Homo sapiens: one gene and its partners. The protein of the gene in region 3 interacts with the protein of the main gene of each other region in a biochemical or structural test. Each region holds a gene or a part of one and is shown on either strand. Other genes may lie near its edges.

The links. The genes of interacting proteins can lie anywhere in the genome.
Region 1: the proteins of UBE2N (region 3) and TRIM21 form a complex in vitro, tested with the Homo sapiens proteins (3 studies listed by BioGRID, with this or other methods).
Region 2: the proteins of UBE2N (region 3) and RNF135 form a complex in vitro, tested with the Homo sapiens proteins (4 studies listed by BioGRID).

The regions. Positions count from the first base shown.
Region 1 is NC_000011.10:4,384,371-4,390,704, forward strand, and holds the end of TRIM21 (E3 ubiquitin-protein ligase TRIM21), read right to left. Parts: intron 6,089-6,334; 5' UTR 6,040-6,088; coding exon 5,632-6,039; intron 5,380-5,631; coding exon 5,284-5,379; intron 4,161-5,283; coding exon 3,930-4,160; intron 2,621-3,929; coding exon 2,598-2,620; intron 1,888-2,597; coding exon 1,787-1,887; intron 1,484-1,786; coding exon 915-1,483; 3' UTR 527-914; downstream 1-526. UniProt on the Homo sapiens protein: E3 ubiquitin-protein ligase whose activity is dependent on E2 enzymes, UBE2D1, UBE2D2, UBE2E1 and UBE2E2.
Region 2 is NC_000017.11:30,966,511-30,974,064, reverse strand, and holds the start of RNF135 (E3 ubiquitin-protein ligase RNF135), read right to left. Parts: upstream 3,027-7,554; 5' UTR 2,992-3,026; coding exon 2,620-2,991; intron 2,602-2,619; exon of another isoform or gene 2,319-2,601; intron 1-2,318.
Region 3 is NC_000012.12:93,405,181-93,410,972, forward strand, and holds the end of UBE2N (ubiquitin-conjugating enzyme E2 N), read right to left. Parts: intron 5,695-5,792; coding exon 5,554-5,694; intron 4,900-5,553; coding exon 4,859-4,899; 3' UTR 504-4,858; downstream 1-503. UniProt on the Homo sapiens protein: The UBE2V1-UBE2N and UBE2V2-UBE2N heterodimers catalyze the synthesis of non-canonical 'Lys-63'-linked polyubiquitin chains. This type of polyubiquitination does not lead to protein degradation by the proteasome.

The DNA of each region.
Region 1 (6,334 bases), on a different chromosome or scaffold from region 3:
TGCCCAAGAAAGGTGCATTCCAGAGAGAAATAACATTAAAACTGGATATTCCAAGGGGCACAGGAATTGGCCAGTTGTCTAGAACACTGAAAGCATAGGGAAGCCCCAGAGAGCTCCAAGAACTTTGATGTTGTCACTCGTCACTTACTGAGAACATGGACAGAAGGTGCTTCAGGTCTGTGAGGGTCAGAGATGCAGAGGTCACAGAGCTACTCCAGCCCCAGGAGAACTTTGTATTTCAAAAGCAGGTGTTCCCTCATGGTAAGGAGGTAATATCCCCTCGGACAGCGATCAGAGCCCAAATGGCCTTCTATCACCACAGCGGCTATGATGGGGAAGGCAATGATGGGGAAGTACAGAAGACTTGACTTGACCTGGGTCTTCAGTCCAAGATCAAACATTTCAAATGGGACAGTCTAGGCATGAAAAGCACGTGCAGTGTTAAAGACACATCACTATTAATCATATTCAGAGTTCTCAAGTATTTCAGGATTAAGGAACAAGGACTGAATGGGATAGACGGAGGCACAGTTTTTTAAATTTTATTTTTTATTTTTAGGAAGCCCTTTTGCAAACCATACAAGATATAATAGAGATCTCACCAAAGACGACATCCTAGAGATGGAGAGGAGAAAAAAAAAACTTAAGTCCCATAAAGAAGGCAGAAACATGTTTTTGGTTGATCAAGATGAGTTTGGGCCAAATATAAGGAGGCTGCTTCACTGGAGGGAATCACAAAGCCATCTGGGGCAGGAATGTTGATGGTGAAGTGACTTCCCTGCTAAAGCTCGCTTGCTGGGATCCGGATGCCTCTGCAGAGACAAAGGTGGTTCAGAGTTCATGGGGAAAAGAGGCAGGGTTTGTGGCTGAGAAGCGGTGCCAATGGGGAGAGTGGCAGTGTCCAGAGAAAGCCATCAATAGTCAGTGGATCCTTGTGATCCAATATTCAGTGGACAGAGGGTTAGAGGGGCTGTGTTTTTTCCTCCATCATTGAAACCAGGACTGAAGAAGGGCCGCAGAGGTCCTGTAAAGGCACATTCAGAGAAGGAGTAGATGAGGGAGCCATGGTCAGTGATGTTGTAGAAGGAGACCATGCCAGCCTCATAGTCCAGGAAAATCCCAACTTGGCATGGAGGCACCTGAAGGTGGAGGGGAGTCTGGGGGTAGGTGCCAGCCTCATATTTTTGTTTGTTCCACAACCAAATTGTCCAGAAGCCACTCTTGGAACTAAGCAAAAAGTGCCCCTTCCTGCGCACAGAGTCTCTGCAGACACCCAGGTCCCAGGCCTCCTTTCCTGTCACATCTACCTCCCAGTAATGTTTTCCAGAGTGAAAGTGCTGGGCACCCAGGACCATAGGATAACTATCAAATCTCTCTTCATTTCCAGGTATGCTCTGCTGGGTGTCTCCAAGCCTCACTTGTCTCCGATCTTCTGAAAGTATCAGCCACGGATTGGCTGTGTCTGGATCCAGAGTGATGTGGACTGCAGAGAGAGGACCACAGTCAGGCCTTGCATGGGGGGAGTTCACTAAGTCTGTGCCTGTGGTGGGGGGATTTTGTGTAAACTCCAGGGTAAGCATGAGGGGTGAACCTCCCTGTGTGAGGAAATGACCATCAGCCAGTTCTGGCCTTGGTCCTGACCTCTGAAGAAACCATCTTCCTTACCTCCATCTCTGTTCCCCCTGCTCTGACCTGCCATCTCTCCTCCAAGTTGCCATCCAGGCTCCCTGACCCTGGGATCTACTCTGCACCCCATTATCCCCCGCAAAACTAGAACTTGCCTCACCTGCACATGTCCTCAGCATCTTCTTCAGCCCTGGCACATGGCACACACTCCTGAGTTCTGGAGAGGTAATATCCAGGTCCTTCAGGTTCCAGGACTCACTCCTGGGGGAAAGAGAGTTTGAGACTCCTGTCTCCTACTCCTATCCCAAACCCTAACACTATAACCTCCATTGTGGAGGACTCCGATAATTTAATTCAACTCAAATTTACAAAGACCTCTGGTGTTCAAGTCTCCAGGAGTGGGTGTGAGAGGCAAACAATGCAGGATTTAGTTTCTACCCAGGAGTTCCTGGTTATAGGAGGCTCTGCAGCATGTGGACAGTCTGTCTCTCCTGTCTAAGCCTGAGGTCACCTGGCAAATGCATTCAATTTCATTTTATAGGCAAGCAATCTGAGACAGGCTGAATCACTTCTGCAAGGAACCTCAAGGAGTCTTGCCCACACTGTGGGTCTTACTCATGGCTCTTTTTGGGAGGTAACTGGTTAGATTCCACTGAGAAAAGGAGTCCCAGCAGGCCATGTCCCAGTAGTCTGAATTCCGGGAAGACCCAGAACTTCCCAGGATTTCCCTGTTTGGCAGGACTTTACTGTGTGAAGATGTTATGATCCAACTACTGTGGGCAATCACCAATTGAGATGTCCATTTATTAGCTTTCTGAGACCAGAAAATATTTTATAGAGAATGAAGTTTTTGAGAATAGGAAGCCAGATGGGGAAAACTTCAGTGCATGTACTTCTAATTCAATCACCTTTGTCATAGGCATATATGCTTTCTGCTGGCCCCTCTTCTAACAAAGAAAACTCCTCCTTACCTTTCCAGGACAATTATCACCTCCTGAGGAGAAAAGAGACAGAAAGTAAGTTCTGGATTGCTGGATCGCCACTGAGACATCAGCCCTGTGGGTGATGTGATCCATCTTTGGTCCCTGGGGCACTGTTCCTCTCCTTCCTCTGGTCCTAGGCCCCAGAGATGATTCTGACCAGCTCAAAGCAGAAAGGATGTGTGGCTGCTTGTGAGGTAACCAGAAGCCCAGCATGGATGTGACCTATGGCTAGGGAAGGGTTATCAGTTTCAGGACTCTGACTCAAAGACCAGTTTTTTTTTTTTTTCCCCAGGGGAGAAAGAAAGGAGGGCAGAGAGGGCACATAGCCCAGCTTGGCTTAAGCCCAGAAACAATCACAGGCAGAGAATGGCCGAGTTCAGGTGTCCAGAAACCACTCTATTCCACTTGTGGGCTAGCATTGTTTGGGAAGGAAAGGTTGGTTAGTTAAAGCTCCCTTGGGTACTTAATGTTGCCTCTTCCTGTATGTGAAACCAAATCACTGAGAATATTTTTGTCGTAGGGATTAGGCGCCATTACATGGGAGCTAGCAGGCTCCTAGACTCAGTCAAAAGTGTGTTGGAAAGCCTGGTTTACAGACAGGTGTAGTGGCTCACTCTTGTAATCCCAGCACTTTGGGAGGCTGAGGGGGGCAGATCACCTACGGTTGGGAGTTTGAGACCAGCCTGACCAACATGGAGAAATCCCATCTCTACTAGGGATGCAAAATTAGCCAGGTGTGGTGATGTGAGGCTGAGGCAGGAGAATCGCTTGAACCCGGGAGGCGGAGGTTGCAGTGAGCCAAGATCACACCATTGCACTCCAGCCTGGGCAACAAGAGTGAAACTCTGTCTCATAAATAAATAAATAAATAAATAAATAGAAAGCCTGGTTCAATGTTGGGCAGAAGAGAGCCTGTCAAGTCAACCCAATACAATTAGGTTTTCTGCACAAACCTGAAAGCAATGGCTCATGACCACTCTGAGTGACACTGAACAGGTGTGGGAAAAGAGCTGTAGAATGTTAGAACAGAAGGGACTTGTGAGACCATCTAGTCCATAGTTTCCTACAGTGAGGCAAACATATCATTGGTGGATGCAAGATGATTCTAAGTGCAACATAAATTGATTTTTAAAAAGGTCCTGTACTTATTTTCATCTTTACTTTGCGTCTTGAACGCGAACCTTTCATGGGTTTGAATTCTACTTCATTTAAGAACATTCCAGGGACCAGGTGTCCATTTATTCAAATGGCAGTTCCAGATAGCTCTGGTCTTTTTCAGTTATTCCCTGAATTGTAGAAGGAAACCCCTCCCTGTCTCACCTGCAGCAGTTCCAGTGCTGAGCTGTGGCACCTTCGATCTAGCTCTGAGATGAGCTCCTGTAGGGCCTGGCTCTGCTGGGCCAGCTTGGCCTCTTTCTCCCCCAGGATTCTCAGCTGCTCCCTCTCATCCTTCTCCAGCTCCTGCAGCTGCCTCTGTTCTTCTTCAACCAGGAAGTTTTTTTGCTGCACAAACTCTGCGTGAATCCTAGATTTCTGTGTTTCCACTGTTTTCTTTAGTGTCAAGGGAAAGGGAGAGGTGGTTTTTATGAAAATCTCCCAAGCTTTGGGAATGGAGGTATTGGTACCTATTCCTATCCCCAAGAGACTCCACTCTGTGCTGTCTGGGAAAACACACACACATGCACACGCACACGCGCGCACACACACACACACACAATTTTGCTTGGGAGGTAGGTGGTTGAGGTTTCTGGGACAGTGAGGGGAATGGACTTGGTGAGGGCACACTGTAGCTGGCCTACAACGACAGCTACACGAATATATGGCATTGGGGACTTTTTCCAACCTCTCTTCCAAGCCCAGTCACCACTCAAATGTGCCCCTGTGTCTTCCTGTCTCAGTGAGTTACTGAGAAAAAAATCACCTGTTCCCACCTCCAACAACCTCACAAAGCCAGGCTCACGCCACCACCTCTAAGTCCTGGGAAAGGGGGCTTGGGGACATTCTTTGCTTTTCCTCTCCTGTTAGTAACTGGAAGGTCACTCGATGACACATGAGGGTCTGTTTTGTCACCACAACCCAACTCACACCCTACCTCAATCCCAAATCTTCCTCTTCTGTGATCTACTGGGGATGGGCTCCTTCTTCTCCCCTCTCATCCCTGACATGCCCCACCTCTCCTAGGAAATCATCAGTGCAGAACAAACATTGATTCTTCATTATATTTTGGACCAGAGATCTGGTCATGGTCAAGTAACCACCTGGTCAGATGGTTTCCTTAAGTTTATTCCTCACAGCCCTTGTCATTTCCTGAAAGGCTTAGCTAGCAGTTGGGTTTCTACTAGGATATTTGTCTCACACATCCAGGTGCTGACGCCATCACACCTCTGAGACTAGACTCAGAGGAGCTCGAAACTTTAGGGTATAGCTAGATCCTCTCAGCACCTTCTTCCAGGATTCTTGATCTTCAGGCCTGATGGGGAGCTCCCCTTTGAACCTGCATCATTTTTATTCCCCTCTATTTGTAAACCTAGAGAGCAGCTGGCTTCTGGAGAGTGAGACGGACCAACTCTATCACTGCTCAGAGAGGCACAGCTACGGTTAAGGCTGTGAGTTGAGGACTCTGGACCCTGCCCAGCCTTCCAGCCTAAGATCTCCTTCAGGATGTCATTCTTACCTTCCAGTCTGCTCTCTTTATTGCAATTTCCACTTCCAACTTCTCAGCCAACTCCTGCTTTCTTCTCAGTTCCCCTAATGCCACCTGGAGCTTCTCCTGCAGAGAAAGACAGCTTATTCGTCCCCCATGCAAACCAAGTAATAGGGTGGGGTAATCCTTGCAGCATTTTCTCATGCATATCTCCTACGCCTGGGGAATGAGGTTGGGTTTAACTTATAATTCTCCTCCTACATTAGACATGGAGAGAGGTAAACCCCTCCTTTCTCTAACCCCTCCAATCCAGAGGTGGTCCTCTCCCATTCCCTGCTCTGAAAACGAAGCACTCACCAGGTGTCTCTTAGGCCTCACCTGGTACTCCTGTGCAGCCTCCTCAAGAGGGACCATGGCGTGGTCACGGTGTTTCCGAGACTGGGCACATACCCAGCAAAGGGCCTTCCCATCTTTCTCACAGAACAGGTGAAGTCTCTCTCCATGCACTGCACACCGTTCCCCCTGTGTGCCCTCTCTGGCCTCCTGGCTGATTTCTTTAAGGTTGTTCACCATGTTGGCTAGCTGTCGATTGGGCCGGAGATTCTTGAGCAGAAAGCGCTGCCGGCACACAGGACAGACGCTGCCCCCACCTTTCCCAACCTGAGAGATGCATTCCTGGCAGAAGCTGTGGCCACACTCGATGCTCACAGGCTCCACGAAGGGGTCCAGGCAGATAGGGCATGTGACCTCCTCCCACATCATTGTCAAGCGTGCTGCTGAAGCCATTGTCAAGTGTGCCGTTAAACAGCAGTGTGGAGACCTTTAGGGGGTTTGGCTGGGAGAGAAGAAGAAAGGGAAAAGAGAATATGAGAAAGTCTGTGTAAGAAAAACAAAAAGTCAACATAATCCCTATCAAAATACCAATGACATTCTTCACAAAAATAGGAAAAAACAATCCTAAAATTTATATGGAATCACAAAAGACTCAGAATAGCCAAAGCTATCCTGAGCAAAAAGAACAAAACTGGAGGAATCACATCATCTGACGTCAAATTATACTGTAGAGCTAAAGTAACCCAAA
Region 2 (7,554 bases), on a different chromosome or scaffold from region 3:
GCCCAGCTAATTTTTTGTATTTTTCTAGAGATGGGGTTTCATCTCTAGATGAAACTTTGGCCTCCCAAAGTGCTGGGATTACAGGTGTGAACCACATGCCTGGCCCAGCCAAATGATTGTTGACAAGGATGCCAAGTCTAATCAATGGAGAATAGACTCTTCAACAAATGGTACCAAGACAATTGGATTTCCACATACAAAAGAATGAAGTTGGACCCCTAATTCACACCATATACAAAAATTAACTTAAAATTGACCAATTACCTAAACGTAAGCTAAAACCATAAAACTCTTAGAAGAGGCTGGCACAGTGGCTCATGCCTGTAATCCCAACACTTTGGGAGGCCAAGGTAGGCAGATCACTTGAGGTCAGCAGTTCAAGACCAGCCTGGCCCACAGTGAAACCCCGTCTCTACTAAAAATACAAAAATTATCCAGGTGTGGTGGCAGGCGCCTGTAATCCCAAATACTTTGGAGGCTGAGGCAGGAGAATTGCTTGAACCCGGGAGGTGGAGGCTGCAGTGAGCTGAGATCGTGTCACTGCACTCCATCCCTGGGAAAGGAGCGAGACCTCGTTTCAAAAAAAAAAAAACTCTTAGAAGAAAACATAGGGGTAAATCTTCATGAACTGAGATTTGGCAATGGATTTGTAAATATGACAACAGAAGCACAAGCAACAAAAGAAAACAACAGATAAAAATTAAATTTAAAACTTTTGCACATCAAAGGATACCATCAAGAAAGTGACAACGCTTAGAATGGGAGAATATATATTTTATAATATATCTGTGAGTCATATCTAATTTGATATCCAGAATATAGAAGGAATCTCTAAAACTCAACAACAAAAAGATAAACAACCCAATTTTAAAATGGTCAAAGGACTTGAATAGACATTTCTGCAATGAAGATCTATAAATGACCAACAAGCACAAGAAAAGATGGGCAACATCATTAGTCATTAAGGAAATCCAGATCAAAATCACAGTGAGGCTGGGTGCGGTGGCTCACGCCTGTAATCCCAACACTTCCGGAGGCCGAGGTGGGCAGATCACAAGGTCAAGAGATCGAGACCATCCTGGCCAACATGGTGAAAACCCGTCTCTACTAAAAATACAAAAATTACCTGGGTGTGGTGGTGCATGCCTGTAGTCCCAGCTACTTGGGAGGCTGAGGCAGGAGAATCACTTGAACCCAGGGGGCAGAGGTTGCAGTGAGCCAAGATCATGCCACTACACTCCAGCCTGGCAACAGAGCAAGACTCCATCTCAAAACAAAACAAACAAAAAAAATGTGGCACATCCACCCAATGGAATATCATTCAGCCCCATAAAAGGAATAAAGTTCTGACACATGCTACAACATGAATGAACTTTGAAAACACTATGCTAAGTGAAAGAAACCAGGCACAAAGGGACAAACATTGAACGATTCCAGTTATATGAAATATCTAGAACAGGCAAACTCAGATACAGAAAGTAGCTTAGATGTGAGCAGGGGCTAGAGGGAGGAGAAATGAGGAGTTACTGCTTAATGAGTACAAAGTTTCTGTTTATGATGATGAAACAGTTTTGGAAACAGAAGTGATAGTTGCACAACAGGAAATGTAACTAATTTGTCACTGAATTGTACACTTAAAAATGGTTAAAATAGGCGGGGCGCGGTGGCTCACACCTGTAATCCCAGCACTTTAGGAAGCCGAGGCGGGCAGATCACGAGGTCAGAAGATCGAGACCATCCTGGCTAACAACGGTGAAACCCCGTCCCTATTTTTTAAAAAAAGAAAAAAACATACAAAAAATTAGCCAGGCGTGGTGGCGGGCGCCTGTAGTCCCAGTTACTCGGGAGGCTGAGGCAGGAGAATGGCGTGAACCCGGGAGGCGGAGCTTGCAGTGAGACAAGATGGCGCCACTGCACTCCAGCCTGGGCCACAAAGCAAAACTCCGTCTCAAAAAAATAAAAGGTTAAAATGAGGCCAGGCGCTGTGGCTCATGACTGTAATCCCAGCACTTTGGGAGGCCGAGGCGGACGGATCATCTGTGGTCAAGAGTTTGAGACTAGCCTGGCTAACATGTCGAAACCCCGTCTCTACTAAAAATACCAAAATTAGCCGGGCGTGATGGCGCACGCCTGTAATCCCAGCTACTCTCGAGCCTGAAGCAAGAGAATCACTCGACCCTGGGGGGCGGAGGTTGCAGTGAGCCGAGATCACGCACGCCATTGCACTCCATCCAGCCTGGGCGACAGAGCGAGACTCCGTCTCAAAGAAATAAAGAAAAAGGTTAAAATGGCCAGTTTTAATGTTATATAGATCTTACCACAATTTTACAAGTTTCAGAGAAAGAGACCGAAGATCGATTGGGAAGAAGTTGAAATATGCCAAGCTGTGTAACAGCTAAGTTGACAAGCTTTCGGAAGATGGGGAATTTGTTTTTTTCTACTTCTTCATACTTTTATGAACTTTCCAAAGTGCCTCCGAAGAGCGGAACTCGACTTTTAGACTGAGAAAAGGAACGTAAAAGTAGAACGGCTGAGGAAAGGGGTTCGAGCCACATGGGAAAGGGTCAGGCGGCGGGCAGCCCGGGGGAGCCAGGGGAGCTGCGGGCCCGGCCTCCCTACCCGCTGCAGTTCCGGGCGGCGCCGGGGCCTCGCGGCCGCGCTGGAGAGGGAACTGGAGCCCGGGCAGGGGCAGTGGGCAGGGTCGGAGCCCGCCTGTATCTCGCGTGCGGCGCGGCGGTACTTGTCGGCCAGGTCCTGCAGTAGCGTGTTCTTCCGCAGGTGCGGCTGCTGCGCGGCGCCCTGGCGGCAAGTGGGGCAGGCCCAGCGGCGGGCGTCGCGGGCGCCCCACAGGGCCTCCAGGCAGTGGCGGCAGAAGCTGTGGCCGCAGGGCAGCGTGGCGGGCCAGTCCAGCAGCCCCTGGCAGATGATGCAGCCGAGGTCGTCCTCGGCCAGCCACACGGGAACGGCGGAGCCCAGGCCCAGGCCCGCCATGGCCAACAGGCGGCCGGGGCGCGGACGTCGGGGTTGAGCCGGGCGAGTCTCCTCAGGCTCCTCCCTCGCCCTTCCTCTTCCCCTTGCCCTCCTCCTTTTCTCGGCCGCCTTTTCTCCTCCTTCCTTGGCGCCACCCCGTCTCCTTCCTCCGATCCTGCTGAAAACAGACTTAGAGCCTCCAGTGCCCAGCTGGAAAGACAGAGCTGACCTTCAGTGGCGGCCTCTTGCCCTGGGAAACCAACATGCCGCGAGCTGCTAGAAACCCGCGGAGGTCTCCAAGATTCCCTTTAGCTGGATGTCCCTCCATTAAGATGCAGCACCGTTGGATGTCTTCGTCCGTTGGCTTAAAAAAAAATAAACAACAAAAAAGATGCAACACCGACAACTCTTGGGAGGAGAGGACTCCATTCAGCAGCTTATTTATGAGAATGAGCCCACGAAGTGTCATCCAGCTCCTCTAACAAGTAGCAGGGGATTAAAGATCACCGATGCACAGCCACAGGGAGCGTCCTCAAAAATGCTGATGTTCGGCCCCGCTCGCAGGGAGTCTGATTTCATTGTCTTGGGTGGAGCACGGGTATTTTGTAAAACCTCCCCCAGGTGATTCTGACGCGCATTCAAGGTTGAGTGAGCGAACCCTTGGCTTTTTAACTCGCAGGTATAATGCAGAGTTGTGCGCTGTGTCCTTACCGCCTTCTGCGGGATGTAAGCGCGTTTCCCAACAGACACTCGGACAAAATTCTAGAAAGTGTTTTCCTGAGAAGGCTCACTCACTCACTCACTTCGCATCCCAGTCCTAAACGCATTGCAACCAGAAAATGTTAGAGCTAAAAGAGCACCACGTCCTCCCAGATGACCCAAAGAGGTTAAAAAAAAAAAAAAGAGAAAAAAGAAAAACTTGCAGGCTCTCATGGTAACAATGAAGCGTCAGAGACTAAAACCCACAACTCCCCAATCTGTTGAAATGAACTAACAACGTCTCATGCTTTACTTTATCCTTTCTGGCCTGGGCTCAAAGTAGGTATCAGATAATACAAGTTTGTAGCCGACCTTTGGATCACTTGAAGTCAGGAGTTCAAGACCAGCCTGGCCAACATGGTGAACCCTCATCTCTACTGAAAATACAAAAAGAAAAGAAAAGAAAAGCCAGGCGCCCTGGCGCATGCCTGTAATCCCAGCTACTTGGGAGGCTGAGGCAGGAGAATCTCTTGAACCCGGGAGGCGGAGGTTTCAGTGAGCCAAGACTGCGCCACTGCACTCCAGCCTGGGCGACATAGGGAGACTCCGTCTCAAAAAAAAAAAAAAAAAAAAAAAGAAAAAAAAGAAAGAAAAGAAAGAAAAAAAAGCGTTTGTGGTTATTTCTAATACTGGAAGTGTCATGGAGTAGGCAGCGCTGCTCATCAACGTTTCCAGTGCTTTCCCTTTCTGGGCACATGGTAGGACTGGCACTTCCCTGACCCACTTGAAACACACAGAGGTAATATGTTACTTCCCACCAGCTTTAAAGGCGACTGAGCCGGCCATTGTATCCCTTTCTGCCAGCTGCCCCAATTATGGAGATGAAACCATCATCCGGTGACCTGGGTCACTGAGTGGCTAAGATGAGCAGACTCCCTGCCAACGCACCCTAGGATACGTAGTAAGAGGGAGAAGAAAACTAGGATGTATTCAGCTTACTGAGATTTAGTGGGTGTGTGCTGCTACAGCATAACCTAGCCTATCCTGACTGATGTATTACCTGGATCTTGTTCTAGAATCTCCGCATCGGAGTAAAATCGTAGTTTCTAAGAGCCTCTTTTTTTCTGTAAAACGGGCATGATACTAAACACTTAAACATGCTCAGATCTTCCAACTTAAAAAATGAAATCACTGGCGGGGCGTGGTGGCTTATGCCTGTAATCTCAGCACTTTGGGAGGCTGAGGCAGGTGGATTGCCTGAACTCAGGAGTTCGAGACCTGCCTGAGCAACATGGTGAAACCTTGCCTCTACAAAAAAAATACAAAAACTACCTAGACATGGTAGCGCAGGCCTGTGATCCCAGCTACTCAGGAGACTGAGGTGGGAGGATTGCTTGAGCCAGGGAGGTGGAGGCTGTAATGAGCCATGAGATCTCAGGAGGTCAAGACTGTGGTTAGCTGTGATCACACCACTTCACTCCAGCCTGGGGAAGGAGCTAGACCTAGTCTCAAAAAAATTAAAAATTAAAAAATAAAATAAAATCACCTTTGACCTGAGCCTCCCTGGAACCAGCTCTCCTCTTCTCCATTTCACAGCCAAGTTTCTGGAAAGAGTGAGTTAACCAGTAGTTTTCAAACTTTTTTCTTGGACACGCCCTAAAAGTTTTATGCAAAATCATGCAGTGGTTATAAGAAAGGGGGAAGTGGGGGCCGGGCGCAGTGGCTCACGCCTGTAATCCCAGCACTTTGGGAGGCTGAGGCGGGCGGATCATGAGGTCAGGAGATTGAGACCATTCTGGCTAACACGGTGAAACCCCGTCTCTACTAAAAAATACAAAAAAAATTAGCCGGGCGTGACGGCGGGAGCCTGTAGTCCCAGCTACTCAGGAGGCTGAGGGAGGAGAATGACCTGAACCCAGGAGGCGGAGCTTGCAGTGAGCTGAGTTCGCACCACTGCACTCCAGCCTGGGCGACAGAGCAAGACTCTGTCTCAAAAGAAAAAAAAAAAAGAAAGAAAGAAAGGGGGAAGGGGGAGAGTGGTCAGCTCTGGTAGTAAAAATATATTAGCAAATTCTTCATTTATATCAGATTTTTTTTTTTTTTGAGATGGAGTCTCACTTTGTTGCCCAGGCTGGAGTGGAGTGGAGTGGCACAATCTCGTCTCACTGCAACCTCCACCTCCCGGGTTCAAACCATTCTCCTGCCTCAGCCTCCGGAGTAGCTGAGATTACAGGCGCTCGCCACCATGCCCGGCTAATTTTGTATTTTTAGTAGAGATGGGGTTTCCCCATGTTGACAGGGTTTCTCCATGTTGGCCAGGCTTGTCTCGAACTCCTGACCTCAGGTGATCCGCCCACCTCATCCTCCCAAGTGCTAGGATTACAGAGGTGAGCCACCGCGCTCAGCCTACATCAGACATTTTGTCATTCTTGGCCGAGTGCGGTGGCTCATGCCTGTAATCCCAGGACTTTGGGAGGCCGAGGCAGGCGGATCATGAGGTCAGGAGTTCGAAAAATACAAAAAAAAATTAGCTGGGCGTAGTTGCAGGCACCTGTAATCCCAGCTACTCAGGAGGCTGAGGCAAGAGAATCATTTGAACCCGGGAGGTGAAGGTTGCCATGAGCCAAGATGGCACCATTGCACTCCAGCCTCGGCAACAGGGCAAGACTCCGTCTCAAAAAAAAAAAAAAAGAAATTTTGTCATTCTTTTATCTTTCTGAACTTGTATTTCCATTCCATTTCCTCCACAGAATTACATTCCAAAGCAATATATTTCATGCATGAAAGTCTTTTATCACTTTGTAATACTTCTCTACAACAAAAGTATGTATGTGTATTAAATTTTTAATTCTTCTTAACTTCCTGTGACAAAAAGGCTCTTGGTAAATTTTTTCCCCTGGATTTAATTATCAATATAATTACTATTAGCAGTCAAACAAAAGAAAAGTATGCTGCAATTTATAACTTTTATATAAATAAAATAACTTTTAAAGACAGTAAACATTTTATTGGAATGATAGCTATTAATAAGACAGATGGGCTCATTTCTTTCAAAAATGCATTTATGCCCAGGCACGGTGGCTCACATCTGTAATCCCAGCACTTTGAGAGGCCAAGGTGAGCGGAACACTTGAGGTCAGGAGTTTGAAACCAGCCTGGCCAACCTGGTGAAACCCTGCCTCTACCAAAAAATACAAAAATTAGCTGGGCATGGTGGCCTGAGGTCCCAGCTACTCCAGAGGCCGAGGCAGGAGAATTGCTTGAACTTAGGAGACGGAGGTTGTAGTGAGCTGAAATGGCACCACTGCACTCCAGTCTGGGCAACAGAGCAAGACTCTGTCAAAAAAAGAAGCATTTATCTATGAATGAACATTACTTAATGATAGACAAACTTTTGCAATAAATTCTATTTCTTTTATGTTTTTATGTGTGCCGAGAAATCTTGTTCACATGTATAAATAGATGACAAAATTGTCACTCATTTTGTTGAATACTTTTTGAGATATATGCAAAAAAGTCATATAGTGATAATCTCTCAATTAACAACTTGATTTGATTTTTCTTTAATTTTTGTTGAAAGCAAGAATTTGAGGTCGGGCGCGGTGGCTCACACCTGTAATCCCAGCACTTTGGGAGGCCGAGGCGTGTGGATCACGAGGTCAAGAGATCAAGACCATCCTGGCAAACACGGTGAAACCGCGTCTCTACTAAAAATACAAAAAAAAAAAAAAAATTAGCCAGGCACGGTGGCGGGCGCCTGTAGTCTCAGCTACTCGGGAGGCTGAGGCAGGAGAATGGTGTGAACCCTGGGAGGCAGAGCCTGCAGTGAGCCAAGATCGCGCCACTGCACTCCAGCCTGGGCGACAGCGAGACTCCATCTCAAAA
Region 3 (5,792 bases):
AGATCTGATATCTACTCCCGACCTTAAGCCAGGAGACTTTGTAAACTTACTAGGTTATAATAAAACTTAAGAACTATCGATATTTACTAATCTACATCATGGAACTATTTCAAAAGCAGTCATATGGTAAGATGGATCAGGAGTCTTTAAAAATAAAACTGAGAAAGAAAAATCATGTGATCAATTCAGTAGTAGAGACAGAGGTTGGTATCAAGTCTATGTTCATACACTTACCAGTGCCACCCAGCAGGGCCATACAAGACACATGAAATGAGATCAGCTCAAGGGTGACAAGATGAAACTGGGAGAGGGCCGGGGAGACCCGAACTCTTAATATTGGATTCCACACAAGAGGAAAAATTTTAGTCCAGCTCCCAGCATGGCAGCTAATGGCAAGTTAGTACCATAAAGCCAACTCTTGGAATATACCTGACTTCCACGATAAAATGGAGATGAGTGCAGGGGTGAGTGTATAGTTAAGAAAACAAACAATATATTACTAGTCCAGGTGGTAGATGACAGATTTTTATTATTTACACTTCTCTCAAATTATTACATTCAGCATGTTTTGCTTTTTATGTTATTTAAAGTATAAACCCTCATATAATTCCCTAAGATGGGTGGCATGCCAAGTAGCTAAATGAAATATCATCCCAGCCCAAAAGTACTTATTCGAATGAAATATTACATTTTTCTTAAATAAAGCAATAAATTAGGTACCCTATTATCATGGTATTTTCTTTTTTGGCCAGCTTTTCTAGATAAGGTTGTATTGCTACTGCAACTAACAAAAAAGATGTGGCAGGGCTGGGCACGGTGGCTCACGCCTGTAATCCCAGCACTTTGGGAGGCCGAGGCGGGCAGATCACGAGGTCAGGAGATGGAGACCATCCTGGCCCAACATGGTGAAACCCCGTCTCTACTAAAAATACAAAAAATTAGCCAGGTGTGGTGGCAGGTGTCTGTAGTCCCAGCTCCTCAGGAGGCTGAGGCAGGAGAATCGCTTGAACGCGGGAGGCAGAACCTGCAGTGAGCCAAGATCATGCCACAGCACTCCAGCCTAAACTACAGAGCTAGAAAGTGGCTAGAGCAGCCAAAAAAAAAAAAAAAAAAAAAAAAAAAAAAGGTTCCTGAACCATTCAACAGAAAAATGAGGCCTATTCCTATCATTTCCTCGATCCAATTTAGTTCCACTTAGGTCACTGTGTTTATAATGTCTTTTAGGACAGATTTCCTTCCCCATTCTCCATCAAACAACCATAGCACCTGTGACTTTTATCTGTTGGTTTGTATTTAATCTTATTTTTAAGTGCTTCTTTGAAATTGTTTTACAAGTACATTCTTGGTCTAGAGTAAGGTTCTATATAGTTGGCCCTCCATATCCATGGGTTCCACTTCCGTGGATTCAAACAACCAGACAAAATATTCCAAAAAACATTGTGTCTGTAGTCAACATGTATATTTTTGTCATTATTCCTTAAACAATAGTGTAACTATTTACATAGCACTTACATTATAATAGGTATTATAAGTAATCTAAATATTAACATAAGCGGGAGGATTTGTGTAGATTGTATGCATATACAACATCATTTTATTCCAGAGACTTGAGCATCTGCGAATTTGGATATCCAAAGGAAGTCCTAGAACCAGTTCCCGACAAATACCAAGAGATGACTTTACTTTAGACCTAAGATCTTGCTAGACAGCCTTTGAGAGGATGAAGGATAACTAGAGCAGAAGCAAATCGCAGCGAAGTAGACTACAACAATCAAGTCAAAAAACATAAAGCTCCTATCAACACCTCAAGATTTTAGAAAAGCCTCTTAACGGGCAATTTTCTTTTAAATAAAGACTGGGTCCCACTATGTTAGCCAGGCTGGTCACAAACTCCTGGACTCAAGTGATCCTCCTGCCTTGGCCTCCTAAAGTGCTGGGATTACAGGCATGAGCCACTGTGCCCGGCCTGGGCAGTCGATTTTCAGGAAGCCACTTAATGTTCAGATTCTTTTCTTCTCTCCCAGGACTTTGCAGATGCTGCTGTTCCCTCTGCCTGGAGATGTTCATCTGGCCTGAATCCAAAAGTCTGTCCAAGTTACTTCTCTTTTCCATGACAGAGTTACAACTATTTGTCTGTCCCCCTTCCCCATTAGAGTATATGGTCCCCAAAGGAAAGCCCCATGCCATTCACTCACCACCTAATCATCCCCAACAACTAGTGGGCAAACATGAAACACTTTTGTTGAATAATGTGTTTCCTTTAGCCCAGGGATTACAAAGTCAAAGGCTTACAAGGGGGAAGGACTAGCAGGTGTGCTCGGAGGGGACTCTAGCCAACTGGAGAGTAACTGGTGAGAAGACAATGACATGCTCTTAGGGTGTCTGCTACTCAGATCCTCTCAGTTAAGTCCCGTGCACAAAGGTGGGTCAGGTCTACTGTTGCCAGATCTTCAGATCATTCAAAAGTTACCCGAATTCTGGATTTTCATGCAAATCTCCCAATTTTTAAAAATGTTGGCATCAAATTCAGAATGTTTTAACCAGCCACACTGTGTGGGCCAGGGAAAACAGGCCCAAAGGCCAGGTGAAGCTGCAGTTTTCAACTGCTGCCTTGGCCTCTCCCAGAGCCCCTTAAGTCCTAAGAAGGCTCAGTCAACACACTGGCACTCGTTTCATCCCACTGGTTGAGAAAGCAAGTCTTAGCAAAGTAATGGGGGAGTCTTACCAAAACTGCAAAGGAAAAAAATATGATACCATGAAATTAGAAATTCACTGCATTTGAAATGAAAATGACTTATTTCTGTACTTCTATAACTCACAAATTTAGCAGACATCATTTAGACATTTTTGTAGTGCAACAGATTTAAATCTGGAATTTCATGGTTTGTAAATCACTATGTGATACTAGCTATAACCATGAGCAATATTACGGGCAGTAAATGTTGATTTCTATTTCGTTTCTTGAAGTTTTGTGTGGTTCATTTTTAAAGTGAGATTCAATTTCCTTAGCTATAGTCAAATGTACCCTTTAAACAGCCCAAGAATTGTTATAAATGACAGCTGCTATCAGTTTTCAAATTTTACAATATTAGGGTTGTTAACTATTTCATTCTGAATTAAGCTAACATTTGTTACCAAGCAATGCATTTATTTGGAAGGATACCAGTTACCAGTCATCAAAAGCTTTTGTATGTTGAAAATGTAATTTTAATAGTTAATTCTTCATCTTACATAGGAGCACAATAAAATACACCACAATCTGAAGAAACTCCAGAATTACGAGAATAAGAGTGAAGAAAATTCAAATGGGCTACAATATCCATTACCTTAAACTGCAAGAGACAAGGTTGCAACCCGAAGGTTAACATTTATGTATTTATGACTGGCTACATTTATGACTTAAAAATAACAAGAATCAGGAATTAGATATGGAGAGAGGTGGGAAAGAACAGTTTTGTGAGGGGAGGAATTCGTCAATAAAGAAGAAAAATTACTGAATTCCAAATTAAAGAATAAAACGAGCTCCCACAGCAAATACTGGAGGGATGAAAGCAAGAATCATTAACTGAGGACTTGATACTCTCAAAGGGATAAACCTTTCTGATGACACACAAGCTAGATAGTTGAGATCTGCTCATCAGGTTTATAAGGAAGACTCACAAATGCCTCAGCAAATCCCAAATGATCAGATCAGTGTTTCTTAACACACATGAAAGGTTACAGATGAAATTTTCAGATAAGAACCAAGAAAAATGTCATAACCCAAATTTTAGGCAAAAATGTGGCACAACTGTGAAAGTCCTACATGTCAGTCACAACTGCTATCTTTGCTGTGACTTTCCTGTACAGTAATTTTTAAACATTGTGGCAAGACACCAATGATCATCTAATCAGACAACACAAACACATTTATTTCAAATTCCTAGAAGGTTAAAAAAAGGTCAGATACTGATGCTTTATGCATGCTCAGGGCCAGTTTATAAATACTCCATTCAGTACTATCTTAACACAAATCTGCATCAGTGAAAAGAAACTGGCAAAATCCACCTCTTGCCATTCAATTTGTCAGATGGTGAAGACCAAGAAAGAATGTTCCATCAGTTTCAATTTTAAAATACGATTGTCAAATTGGGAAAATGAAATAAACACAGTAAAATAAACTGTACAAAGGCAAAGTAGAATAACAAAAAATATTTTACTAAAACATAAGATTTACAGAAGTTTCCAGACAAGCCATACAAAATGGTCACAAGCTTTTTTTGAAGGGGGGAATCTACACTTGACAGCAATGTTATTAGTGAGGGCTGTGATGTTTGTTTAATGTTCCCATTTTGGTTCCAACAATCAAGCTTGTCCATCTACAGCGTCTAAATAAAGTTAGACTTGGCTAGAGCATATTCTAAAGACCTGGTTAGCTGCTTTTAACCAATGCAATTAGATCACCAAAAAAGGGGGAAAGGAGCCCATAAAATTAAACTACCTCCCCCCTCAAAAATAAAATAAAATAAAATAAAATAAAAACACCCACACCCCTGCAGCTAACCTGACAACTACCTTCATTCACAGTGCTTTATACTTAAACCAGGATGGGGGAAATGAATAAAAGCAGGGAGGGGCCACTGCTTTTAAACGTTTCACAACAATCCAGATGATACTTCTAGCCTCTGCTCATGCTTTATGACAGTGAATCAGGACAAGACATAGATTTGCTAATGTGCATTTAATCACCAAAGGACTGAAGATGTCTGGGCTTTTTTATTCTGTAATGTTTCTAAGACTGTGTCCATTAAATGCAAACAAAGAGGAGGAAGTCTTGGCAGAACAGGAGAAGTGATGCACACTTGATGATCGTATCAATTTAAATATTATTCATGGCATATAGCCTAGTCCATGCTCTAGCTGTAGACAGAAACAAACATACGATTATTATTTTACTTAGTTCAATATGTTACTTTCCAAACTATAAATGGCAAACAACCACTATTAATTATGGAAATGTCATGCTGTAATCTGTTAAATTCACGCCTTTTTCTATAAATTGGATCAGGGCTGAAAGATTTTGTAAATGTCCAATTACCAAAACACTACAATAAAATTAAGAAGTTCTAGAAAATTCAAGAGGATGAATCAAGTTGTCCATTTCTAGATACACAATTCTCCCCACTAATTTTCTTAAAATCTGTAGCAGAAGCTTCTTGACTCCAAATTCCGTAGCCATAAACAGCTGAATACTTTAATCAAATGGGTTACAAAAACAGTTCAAGTTTTCCAGTATTCTTTACATATAACTAGATAAATGGTATGCACTCAGTATTTGTTAAACCAGGTGTAGTTACAAGAGACTCCAAGATCTTTCAATTACAGGTTGTCTTTATATTTGGGGGGTCCCATAGCAAGCCATTTTGTTAAGACGTATTTACATACTATAAGCAGGATCTCACTTATTATACTTTTTTCTATTTCTTTTCCTTGCCAAGAGCTTTAGAAAAGTTTAAGTGGTAATACAAATTTGTAAAAGTGGAAGTGGTGTGAAGGAGAATGAATATTAGATACCTGTTTCTATGGCTTGGGCTTCGTTGGTCTTCCACTGCTCCGCTACATCATTTGCTAATGGATCATCTGGATTGGGAGCACTTAACAAGGCCTGGATCGATAGCAGAACTGTGCGGATCTGCAGTGCTGGGGACCACTTATCTATGAAGGCAACAGGCCCAGTATGATAAAGCATGAAAAAAACAGGCCCAGAACTGCTTCACTTCCCTCCCACAGACCTCTCTGATCTTTGTATAATG